3 linked regions of the Homo sapiens genome follow. The protein of the gene in region 1 interacts with the protein of each later gene in a pairwise test. Each region holds a gene or a part of one and is shown on either strand. Other genes may lie near its edges. The genes, in order: KCNIP3, TMTC1 and SRL.

Region 1 (3,818 bases):
CTCGGCAAACACCAAATATCACCCATGGCAAGCCCAGGGCAGTGATTTCTGCCCGTTCTCTCGTTAACACACCACCAGAATGCAGCCCAAGGCAAAGAGCCAGCACCAATCCTTGGGGTGCACTGAACAGGACCAAGGAGGGGCTGAGGGTGGGGCCTCCTGATCACCAGGCACTGCACACATTATTTCCCATCTTCAAATGTGCCCTGTGGACAGGTTCCAGCCTGGCTTCTCACGGAAGGCTTAGAAAGGATCAATGAGGTGCCCCGGCTTACTCAGGGCGTGAGCAGTGGGCAGGGTGGAGCCTGGTTTGTTGGACTCTGCAGCCTGGCTCTGTCTTCCTAGCCAACTGGAAAACCGCAGTGTGGTCCCAGCTCTCTGTACCCATGCTCTGTGGGTCCCACTGGGAGCTCAGTGGCCTGTGTGAAGCAGGCACTCAATGAATGGGGAAGGGTGTGAATGAATGAAAACACACCTCCAATAGAGACAGGGGCGATGTAGCCCAGGCTGGGGTCCCAGGCTGGCCTTTGAGCCCTCAGAAAGGACAGTGCTCAGAACAGATCTCCCCACCCCCACCCTTGACCACAGCCCACCCTGGCCCCTACCTGAGCCCTGTGGGGCTGTGCTGGACAGGATCCACTTGACCAGGCAGCATCTCATCAAAGCCTGGCGGCTGAGCCTCGGCCTCTGCCACTTGATACCCTCCTTCTTGCTAAGTGGTGTGTGCCCGAGGTCCCCCAGGAGGCTGCCGTCCGACGCCTTTGTCACTTCCTGCAGTAGGAACAGGCAGAGCAGCCCTGAGCCCCTGCTCAGAGGGGGGACCCCTGGATGGTCCCGAGCTGCCCTGATATCCTAGATGAGGCCAGCCTGAACACAACAGAGGGCTCACCTTCCGGGGCTGCATGCCTAGTGCCCCTTGTCCTGGCCATTCCTGCCAGACCTGGGGAGGTTCCTTTCACTCTACACCCTGGCTATGGTGTAAGATGGGACCCCTGGAAGAGGGGCAGACAGGGGTGCAGAGAGGGGATGTCAGCAGTGATCCCAGACTTACTCATTGGATTCTCCACCTTGGCACAGGCCAGGTTGTCGGAGCTGGACAGCCCCTTAGAAATCACGATCCCAATCCCTCATCTGCCTGAAAACCAGAGAGGCAAGTGGATCTGTACAGGGTCACACAGCCACGTCTGGCTCCCTCACTCCCCCAGCAGGGCCCCTGCTCTGCCTGAGTTTTCATGCTGAGGCAAGCTGAGAATGAATGAAAGGCTGGGTGGTGACCCCAGGAGGGCTGCACTGGTGGAACCGACCACTGAGGCTGGCAGGGATCTGAAGAAACAGCTCCAGCTATGGGCAGGAGAGTCTTGGGAGGAGTGAGTCATGGGTGGTCATTAAGAGGCAGTGGATCAGCCGGGCGTGGTGGTTCACGCCTGTAATCCTAGCACTTTAGGAGGCCGAGGCAGGCGGATCACCTGAGGTCAGGAGTTCGAGACCAGCCTGACCAACATGATGAAACCCTGTCTCTACTAAAAATACAAAAATTAGCCAGACGTGGTGGCATGTGCCTGTAATCCCAGCTACTCAGGAGGTTGAAGCAGGAGAATTGCTTGAGCCCGGGAGACGGAGGTTACAGTGAGCTGAGATCATGCCACTGCACTCCAGCAAGGCCAACAGAGCCAGACTGTCTCAAAAAAAAAAAAAAAGCAGTGGGCCATGTGCCTGAGTCGGTGTGGATCAGAAAACAACCTCCTGGGGTCATGGTGGAGGCCCCAGGGCAGCAGGATTTGCTCTCCTACAACGTATTTCAGGCCCCCCAATCCTGACATCCAAACTGCCCACCATGCTCAGTTCCCATGCTGGCAGCTGGCCCATGAGGCACAGAGGAGGGAGGTGCACCGCAGGCTGCCGCTGGCCACACCTCTGTGCACCTGCTGGGTCTAGTTTGCTGCCTTTGTGCTGTCCTCTCCTGCTCGGGGTGGCAGGGGGACAGGTGTGGTCTGGCCCATTGGACCACAGCCCACCAATGGCCCTCATTTTGTCTGTGACGCACTGCCTGACCTCTAGCTGTGGCAGTGGCACCACCCCCACATGCATATGTGTTCTGAGCAGTTGGGTTCCTTGGCCAGTAAAGAGGGCCACTCAGGGGGTGGGTTGTCCATACCCTTCCCAGGTCACAGGGTCTCGTGTGTGCTACCTTTGCACGGTCCTGAAAAGTATTTGGTTGTTCAAAGTAAATAACAGATGGACGGGGCCGTCAAGCAGCTTCTACAGAGGCAGCCCTGGAAGACAGCCCCTGTGCTAGTTGGACTGTCAGGTGCAAGAGCCAGAGACTGACCCAGGTTGATTTGAACTGGAAGAATTGGCAGCAGGGAGCCCGGGCCAGTCACAGCCTGCAGGGAAGCACAGAGAGCCAGTCCTGGAAAGCAGACGAGATCAGAGAGCAGCGCCGGACACCAGCCCTGGCCATGCCCGTCCACACAGAGCCCAGCGACAGGGCTCTGCTGCTGCTGCAAAGGCTGGCCCCTCTCCCGAGGCATGGGCCTGGCACCCCCACTGGTCTCTGCACACTGCAGGCTCCAGCTGGGGGAGGATTCTCTGGGTGCTTCACTGGCTCATGGTCCCCTGAGGCCTATCCACATTCGGGATGGGCAGCTGGCCCACTAGTCAGTGTTTGATGAAGTGGTCCCCTAGGCAGGGAGATGTCCAGTTCCCTTATCCTGGCTTTTGGGCCTTCCCCAGCTAGGTCCCAACTACCAGTCCTCCAGCTCACAGTCATCATCCACCCTTCCTCCGACACACCCTTGGCAACAACCCCTGCACGTCCCTCCCCTTCTCCAAGGCTCACCAAGCAATGAGGGGGCTCAGTGGTGCCCAGAGCTGCAGCAAGAAGAGGCACTGACCATGCTGATGGAGCAGAAACAGGGGGAGAGCTGGGGGTGGACGGGTGCCTGGGGTGCTGAGGGAAGCTCCCTATGTGCACACGCTATGCACACACACGTGTACAATGCTCACATGCACACACACGCACACACATGCACACAAGTACACATGTTCATATGCACACACAAGCACACATGCATAGGCACACACACGTACACATGCTCATATGCACATGTGCTCACACATACATATGCACACACACGTCCTGTCAGGCTGGGTCAGAAACGCACTTTCTCCATTATTCATGATCTTATTCAGGAGTCTTTATTTTGGTTAAGGAGGGTCGTAGGGGAGAGAGGGGCAGCAGGTGCTTCATTACATCACAAATTCTTTGCTGCAGGCTCTGCGTGGGGGGTGAGCAGAGGACATCAGAAGAAACTGAGGCGGCCTCGGAGCCCCTGGCAGGAGCTCTTCACTGGGACCCCCAGCCCCGTCTGCAGCCCATCTCAGAACAGCACTGGCTTGGCTGGCAAGGCTGCTTCTCGGGGCCCAGGGTTAGTCACAGGGATTCTGTCTTGAAGCCCCAGGCCCAGGTCGTGCGGGAGATCCCATGGGTGTCCTGGGTTCTAGCTCACAGGGCTCAGTCCTCCCGGGAAGGCTGGGTGAGCCCAAAGGGCAGGCTGAGCACCTCCCAAGTGGATGTCTATGTTGAGCTGAAAGTAATCTCGTCACGACAACCCCCTGCAATCGGTAAGACGATCCCCATTTCACAGATGAGGAAACTAATTCCCTGAGAAGTTTTGGGACATGCCAGGGCCACACTACACATATAGTCTTCTGATTCCAAAGTTCACATGGGCTTGACCACAGGCTTTGCTGCTGAGGCTGTTTCTCGGCCTGGGTCCCTGGGGCGGTCTCTGGAGCTGGGTGTGTTCCGAAGCCCC
Region 2 (3,600 bases), on another chromosome or scaffold:
GGTCATGGAGCACTCTGATACTGTTTCCATCTAAAAAAGAAAACAACTCCGAGAAGAAGGGGGTAGCCAGAGCTCTTCCTTGGAAAAGGATGACTTAAGGATAATTTGAGGAAGGAAAAAAGACTTTCTTTCTATAAAAATCTACTATTAGAGGCCACTCTTTTCTTTTCTTTTTTGAGGCAGGGTCTCACTCTGTAGCCCAGGCCAGTCTTGAACTCCTGGCCTCAAGCAACGCTCCTGCCTTGGCCTCCCAAAGTGCTGGGATTGCGGGTGTGAGCCATTGCACCTGGCCTAGAGTCACTCTTTTGGGTTAAGACGTTCTCTCTAGAAAGCCTCCGTTAATTATAGGTAAGGATTGATACATTGACCTATTACCTCAACTATGATTTCAGCAAAGATAATTTCACTATCCCAATCAGCTGTTAACTTAGAAAGCTAGACTTTTATGGTGTTAACCACACACACATACAGACGCACACACACGAGCAGCTTTGGGTCTTCCAATCCTATACTTAGCACATTGTAGCACAAAGAATCTCCTTAATATATTTTTATTAAGTTAATAGGTGAATAGGAAAGGCTGTAGTGTGTTATACGGGGAAATAGACTCAGGTGTGTCTAGATATTAAAGTCGGTATATTAAGGTTACCAAGCGTGAAAGATTTTGATGGAAGAATGAAAACATCCATGTCCAGGACTTCCAGTTTCATTTCTCAGTCACTAATTTCAAGTCACCAAATAAACAAAGTGAAAATGGGTGAAACGTACTTTGAGTTACAATAAGTTTATCTTAATTCATTGACTTTTCAACTGCTCAGATGTCTTAAAATTTTTTAAAAAGTAAGTTGTTATAGTAAAGAGCCACACAAATACTCATAGCAGAGGAACAATTTCTGGATTATGTCGGTGAGCTTTTTAAGGGTTTGGGGAGGATGAGAATAAAAGGGTGACTTTTTATTTTCAGTTTTTCTATCTGGATGTGTCAAATTCCTGATAACTTCTAACACTCAGCAATGGAAATTTAGAAGGTGCCTGAAAGAACAAATAGAATTTTCAGACCTGGAGAAATTCTAGTAATCATCACTCTGGGACATATTATTAAAATTAGTATTTTAAAAAAGAAAACAATCTTTCAGAAAGACAGGAAGTTTAGGAGCCAAAGCCAGAGGCCCTAATACAAATCGCCCCCACCTCCCCATCCCCCCATCCCCACCTTCTTCCCCGCCCTGTTCAAACACGCCCACAGCCCAGGAAATAATGAGACCCAAGTGATCCAGCTAGATAGAAAAAGTAGTTTGCTTGGCATCTCCCAAATTATCTTGAGCAAACAATAAAATAAGAAATGTTTCAGAAGACAATTCGGCTCCCAGGCCCAAACCAAAACTCGAACCTGGTACTTTTTGTAAGTGCGGGCCAAGAAAGGGGCTGTAAAGTTAAAGAGCCGGTGGCGCCTCTGAACACACCCGGGCAGGGCGAGCAGGATGTCCTTGTCCAGGGAGACCCCTTCTCCTGGCTTTGAGGAAGGTGCTCCCTATCCCCGCGGGTTCCTCCGCCAAGCGGGACGCCGCGCCGGGCGGGTGAGAGAAAGCCCGGGCAGGAGAGCACAGAGCCGGCGACTGGACGCGAGCGCGGGGCGGGTGGAGAGCGTCTCTCCGGGCGCCGCTGCTGTTGTCCCGGGTGCTGAAAAGCCGGGAACTTCCCGGGAAGCAGCGGCACTTTTCTCCCTGGAAGGTGGGTGTGGGGGTTCCAGACTGCGCACCTGCTAAACCCTCCTGGGTCCCCCGGGAGGGGTCCGCCAGATGTGCCCCTTCCCAGCCCCATTCGGGGGAGAAGGATGGGGGCGGGGGCGTGGGGGTGAGCACAGCCGGACACCGCAAGTGGGAACCTGGGGTGTCCTTCCCCGCAGCTCCCGGGCAGCCGCGCGCCGCGAACCCCGGTCCACCTGCAAGCAAGGCGGGCCGGGGGCAGAGGGCGCCGGGCTGTGCGGGGGAACCGGCCCGCGTCCCGGGATTGGGGGGCGGTGGAAGAGAGAGCGAGCGGGCATGCGCAGTGGGGCGGAGGAGGTGGCGATGGCCGGGGGAGGCGGGGGGACTGCTGTTTATTTGCAGCTGGGCCAACTCCGCGGCGCAGGCGGCGGCGGAGCGCGGGGAGCTCGCGGCGGGTCCAGCTGCCGCAGCACCATGCCCGAGCCCCCCTCCGGGCAGACGCCGCGCGCCGCCGGGGCCCCGGTAGGGGAGGATGCCAGACGCCCGGGAGAGGCCAGGGCAGCAGCGGCGGCGGCGGCGCGATGGTGGTGACCACCTCTGCCCGAGGCGGCGGCGGGGACCGCACACCCTCCCGGCGGCGGGGCTGCGGGCTAGCGCCGGCCGGGGCCGCGGCGCTGCTGGCCGGGGCAAGCTGCCTGTGCTACGGCCGCTCCCTGCAGGGCGAGTTCGTGCACGACGACGTGTGGGCGATCGTGAACAACCCCGACGTGCGGCCCGGCGCCCCGCTCCGCTGGGGCATCTTCACCAACGACTTCTGGGGCAAGGGCATGGCCGAGAACACCAGCCACAAGTCCTACCGGCCGCTCTGCGTCCTCACCTTCAAGTGAGTCCCTCACCTCGCGCTAGCCGCCGCTGCCTCCTCTACCCTCCGCCCGTCCCTCGGACCGGGAGAAGTTGCGGGACTGACTTGGGGGCATTTCATTTTTGCCGCCCTTTCCCTCCACGCCTCCCTCCTCTCCAGGATGTGCATGGCACTTTGCTCCGGGATCCACTGCCCGGCTAATCTGGGCTCTCGGGGCGGTTCGGGAGGCGCCGGCTGGGGAGTTGGGATCGAGTTTCTCAACTGTCTGCCCTCTCAGCGGGCTTCTCTCTCGAGGCAGGGCTGGGAGCGGGCTGGTGAAACCGCCTCCGCACCCCTTCGCCTGCCGGATCGTGACCAAGTGGGACTAGCGCGGACCCAGAGGGTTCCGGAGGGGTGGCGGTGGTGGCGATGCTTCCAAGTAGAGAATTTCTCGGAGGCTGTTGGGCAGCTTTGCAGATGAGAAGTGTATCAGCCCCTTAAGGGTTTCGTTCAGATGAGACGAGGCGGGAGCCTTGAGCTGACAGGGCTGCGTGGGTTCAGGAGAGGGAGCAGAAAACTCTCCCGAGCCCCCCAGCCCCCGCCTTGCACCCTTGGCTGCTCCCAGAGGCTCTCCAATCTGCCAGACTTCTCTGGATCTAGACTTTAGAAGGTGCAGAGAGAGGTAACGCAGAGCCTAGGCTTCTCCAGGGACCCTGGGGCCCCAGCCGAAATAGTTTTTCTTTTACAACCTCGGAGTCATGATTCAGCGTTTCTGGTGTGAATAAGCGTAAAGGGAACCGAGAATATGCCAGGTTTTTGAGGGGTGGAGTATTTTCTTTAATTTGAAAAGAAGCCTAGCTTCTGAGGAAAGAAGAGAAGTGCTCATTTAAGGGAAATGCTATCTTACACAATCAGGAGCTTGACTCAACCCTTTATAATGTGGCTCAGCATTGAAGTTCATTTTAACGCGCCGGTCAAAACTGTTGAAATAATATTGGTGCGCTATTATCGGCGTTTTAAGCCTTTTTGCAACGGGTGTAATAGGAACCCGTG
Region 3 (3,818 bases), on another chromosome or scaffold:
GGTAACCCTAACTGCTCTTCGGGGTTGTTTGATGATGACTCTTTCTGGCTACTTCATACTTAAAAGGGGTGTTGTGTGGGGAACAGAAGCTAAGGGCTCCTCCTGGGGTCGAGCTAAGGGTCCTCGGAAAAAAGGCATGTCCGTGCATGGTTCTGTCTGCAGCACCATTTAGAGTTTGATTACTGTCAGCCATTCTGATGGGTTGTAACACTGGTTTGCCTCCACCAGATGTTGAGATAGTTTCCAGATTCCAGAGAAACCAGGCAGAGAGAAACAAACATGCTCCAAATTTTCTTCACAGGAGTATACCTTATTCAATTATTAAAGGCCATAAATAGTTCACAATAAGTTTTCTTGACTCGTTTTGATGAGTGTTGTACCTTGGGATCCCGGATGAGGTCCCCAACATGAAGCAGCTACATTGTTTGGGGTAAATACCTGGGGTTCATTGTCTCACGCCAAGAAAATTTAGGACACAGACACACATGAGGAGTTTAGGAGCAGAGGTTTAACAGGCAAAAGAAAGAGAAAGAAAAACAGCTCCTTAGTGAGAGAGAGGGGACTTCCAAGAGGAAAAGTCCCAAGACCTTGTCTTTGAAAAAGCAGTAGCTCATGCCTGTAATCGTAGTGCTTTGGGAGGTCGAGACAGGAAGATTGCTTGAGCCCAGGAGTTGGAGACCAGCCCGAGTGACATAGGAAGACCATGTTTGCAAAAAACAAAAAAATTAGCCAGATGTGGTGCACACCTGTATTCCCAGCCCCTCGGAGGTTGAGGTGAGAGGGTGGCTTGAGCCCAGGAGTTCAAGGCTGCAGTGAGCTATGATCGTGTCACTACTCCAGCCAGGGTGACAGAGACCCTGTCTCTTAAAAAAGATTAAAAAAAAAAAAAAAGTCAAGTGCCTACCAGATGCCTAATTCTTTTTTTTTTTTTTTTTTTTTTTGAGACAGAGTCTCGCTCTGTTGCCCAGGCTAGAGTCAGTGGTGCAATCTTGGCTCATGGCAACCTTCGCCTCCTGGGATCAAGTGATTCTCCTGCCTCAGCCTCCTGAGGAGCTGGGATTATAGGCACCCGCCACCACACCCAGTAATTTTTGTATTTTTAGTGGAGATGGGGTTTCACCATGTTGGCCAGGCTGGTCTCAATCTCCTGACCTCAGGTGATCCACCCGCCTCGGCCTCCCAAAGTGCTGGGATTACAGGTGTGAGCCACTGTGCCTGGCCCTGATTTAGTTCCTTTCCTCCAAGGCTGGCTTCTACCTCTTCCCCACACAGTGACACTGTACCCCGACCAGACAAGCAAGTGTCTGCTTTCCCTTGGCTTCTTACAACTGGCTCTCTGGGCCATCTACAAAAAATTTTAAAAAATTAGTACAGCATGGTGGCACTACTGTCCTAGCTACTTGGGAGGCTGAGTTGGGAGGATTGATTGAGCCTGGGAGGTCGAGTGCAGTGAGTGATGATTGTGCCACTGCAGTCCAGCCTGGGTGACAGAGCGAGATCCTCTATCAAAAACAAATAAACAAAAAAGCACTTTGCAGAGGTGACTGAATGTTCTGGAACCCCTGGGCCATTGGAAATGGATATCTGTTGCTCCATCCTCCAGTTTACACCGTAGCCTCAGCTTGTGTCTCAGTGTGCCCCTCTCCCTCTGGTCTGTGCTCTCTCTCTTCCAGAGGCTGGGAAGGTTGTTCCAGGGCTGCAGCCTTGGACCTCAGAGGTCACATGTTGCGGGTTTGCCGTAGCTGACCACTCTCTAGCATGTGGATCAGTGGCTGTTAAATAGGATTTCTTTTGCGTGGCCTTACAACTTCCTCCTTCCAGTGCAGGCGTGTCAAGGTCCTTAACCTGCCGAGACTTCAGGTCAAGTTATTGCAAGTTCTGGGAAGACTCAGCTTCCCAGCTCCACCGCCTGAGCCCAAGGGATGCTCCATTTTATGCCTGTCACCCACGCCCTGTGACCCATGTCATGTGATCCCAGGGCTGCAGGGGTTCGGGGGAAGAGAATCCAGCCACGGCCCTGCCTTCTGGGGCCTGGCAGCTGGGACAGCAGTGGCGCAGCCTGAGCCTCTGCACAGCCTTCTGGGGTCCGGGCTTCTTCCCCATCACACCCTCCTAGTTGCCCTGGTGACTGTGTGACCCCTCTCCCCCCTCCACCGCCTGCTGCCACGGCCGGCCGTATAAATAGAGGCGAGGAGCAGCTGGGCTCTCTTGGCAGTCACCATGAGGGCGCTGGTCCTGCTCGGCTGCCTCCTGGCCTCGCTCCTGTTCTCAGGACAAGCAGGTAGGGCCCCTCCCAGCATGACCCAGCCCAGACTGGTCCCCCACGCTTCCTCCAAGGTTTTCTGTCTACCATGGGTTGGGTAGGGGGTCGGGGCTGATGGCAAACCCTGGCTCTTGGCTGGTGTCTTCTTACCCTTCTCTTTTCCCCGGGCCTGGGGCCTCAGAGAAAGAGCTGGGTGCTGGAGAATAGCAGCACAGTTGCGGGGCCCTCAGGAAGGCCAGAGGAAGTGGGAACGGCAAACAGAGCTGAGCTGTGAGCCAGGGTCAGAGAGGAGTCTGGCCAGTAGATGTGGGAAAGAGGGCCCTCAAAGTCGAGACGGGGGAGCCTCTGAGACGGACAAAATAGCACAGTCTGGGAGCTGGAGGTCGTTGAGGTGACCCTCCCACCTGGTGGGATATAAGGCGGAGGCCCCACTCGGGTAAGAGAACTGGGTTTGCGTGGACAGAAGGGGATACAGTGGGCAAAGGTGGGGACCGTTTTGGGAGCAGTGAGATAGAATTGGAATTGGTTTGGGATAAGATCGGAAATAGAGTTGGCGGTTGGGCTGGAAACAGCATTGGATGCAATTCAGAAGAGGAACGGGGCCCGTTCTGGAGTAGAGCCTCTGCTCGGGGTGGGGGCTTCCATCAGAAAAGGGGCTTGGCTCTGTGTGCTGAGGCTTCCCTTTGACATCTCAGCACTTTGGGTAGCAGAGGTGGTGGCTTGGGTTGCAGCATGGGGGTTATCTATAGGCTATGGAGGAGATGCCAGATTGTTTTGCCACCTCTCTTGTTCCTAAGGTTCCTGAGGCCAGGTTCCCCGAGGGAATGCTTTTAGGGAGGTGCTCCGGGGATCCCCCTAGGATCCGGACTGCCCACCGAGTCTTTTCATGACTCGGCAGTCTTCCCCCAAGCTGGGCTCTGAGCCTAGGTCCGTACCTGGGACTGGAGAGGCCCAGAGTCCAGCCTCTCAGGTCTTTGAGGTTGAATAGGGGGTTGCAGGGGCACAGTCCCTGCAGGGAGAGCAGGCAGTGGGTGGGAACAAAAGCTATTTCTCGGGGACTCAAGATGTAAGGTGGGGGGCTCCAGCCACTGCATGTGCTGCTGGGCCCTGCCCTTGTCTGTCCTTGAGTTAATTTGGGCTCTGCAGGGCTGCAGCGGCTTGAGTGCTGAGTATTCCAGGCGGCTGTCAGGCGGCTAAGTATGGAAACAGCCGCGTAATTGGATCCGGAGCCCCAAGCCGCTGCCACCCTCTCCCTTCGTGGCCGCTCCTGTGCTGCCCCCCAGCCCCAGCTGCTGGGCTGCTACACACTGGGCCCCAGGAATTTTTGGCCTTTTAGGGACATCCTTTATCTTTCCTCCCACCGAGGGAACTGGTCATCTGGAATGTTCTGCAGGCCTCGCTGGGGGCTCTTGTCGTGGGGAAAGGACGCAGGCAGGTGCTTGTGCAAAGGTCCCTTCTCTCTGCTGTCTTTCCTTCCTGGGTCCCACAGCGTGCGTCTGCCCCTGGCCCAACCTCCGGCGTAAAGCTTCCCTCTGTCCCTGCTCCTGCTCAGCAC

The links.
Region 2: the proteins of KCNIP3 (region 1) and TMTC1 interact in binary tests that used the Homo sapiens proteins (3 or more experiments, as listed by UniProt).
Region 3: the proteins of KCNIP3 (region 1) and SRL interact in binary tests that used the Homo sapiens proteins (3 or more experiments, as listed by UniProt).

What each region holds. Positions count from the first base shown.
Region 1 is NC_000002.12:95,307,308-95,311,125, reverse strand, and holds part of KCNIP3 (calsenilin), read right to left. Parts: intron 772-3,818; coding exon 606-771; intron 1-605. UniProt on the Homo sapiens protein: Calcium-dependent transcriptional repressor that binds to the DRE element of genes including PDYN and FOS. Affinity for DNA is reduced upon binding to calcium and enhanced by binding to magnesium. Seems to be involved in nociception.
Region 2 is NC_000012.12:29,782,439-29,786,038, reverse strand, and holds the start of TMTC1 (protein O-mannosyl-transferase TMTC1), read left to right. Parts: upstream 1-2,096; 5' UTR 2,097-2,287; coding exon 2,288-2,589; intron 2,590-3,600. UniProt on the Homo sapiens protein: Transfers mannosyl residues to the hydroxyl group of serine or threonine residues.
Region 3 is NC_000016.10:4,240,470-4,244,287, reverse strand, and holds the start of SRL (sarcalumenin isoform 1 precursor), read left to right. Parts: upstream 1-2,207; 5' UTR 2,208-2,220; coding exon 2,221-2,281; exon of another isoform or gene 2,282-2,699; intron 2,700-3,818.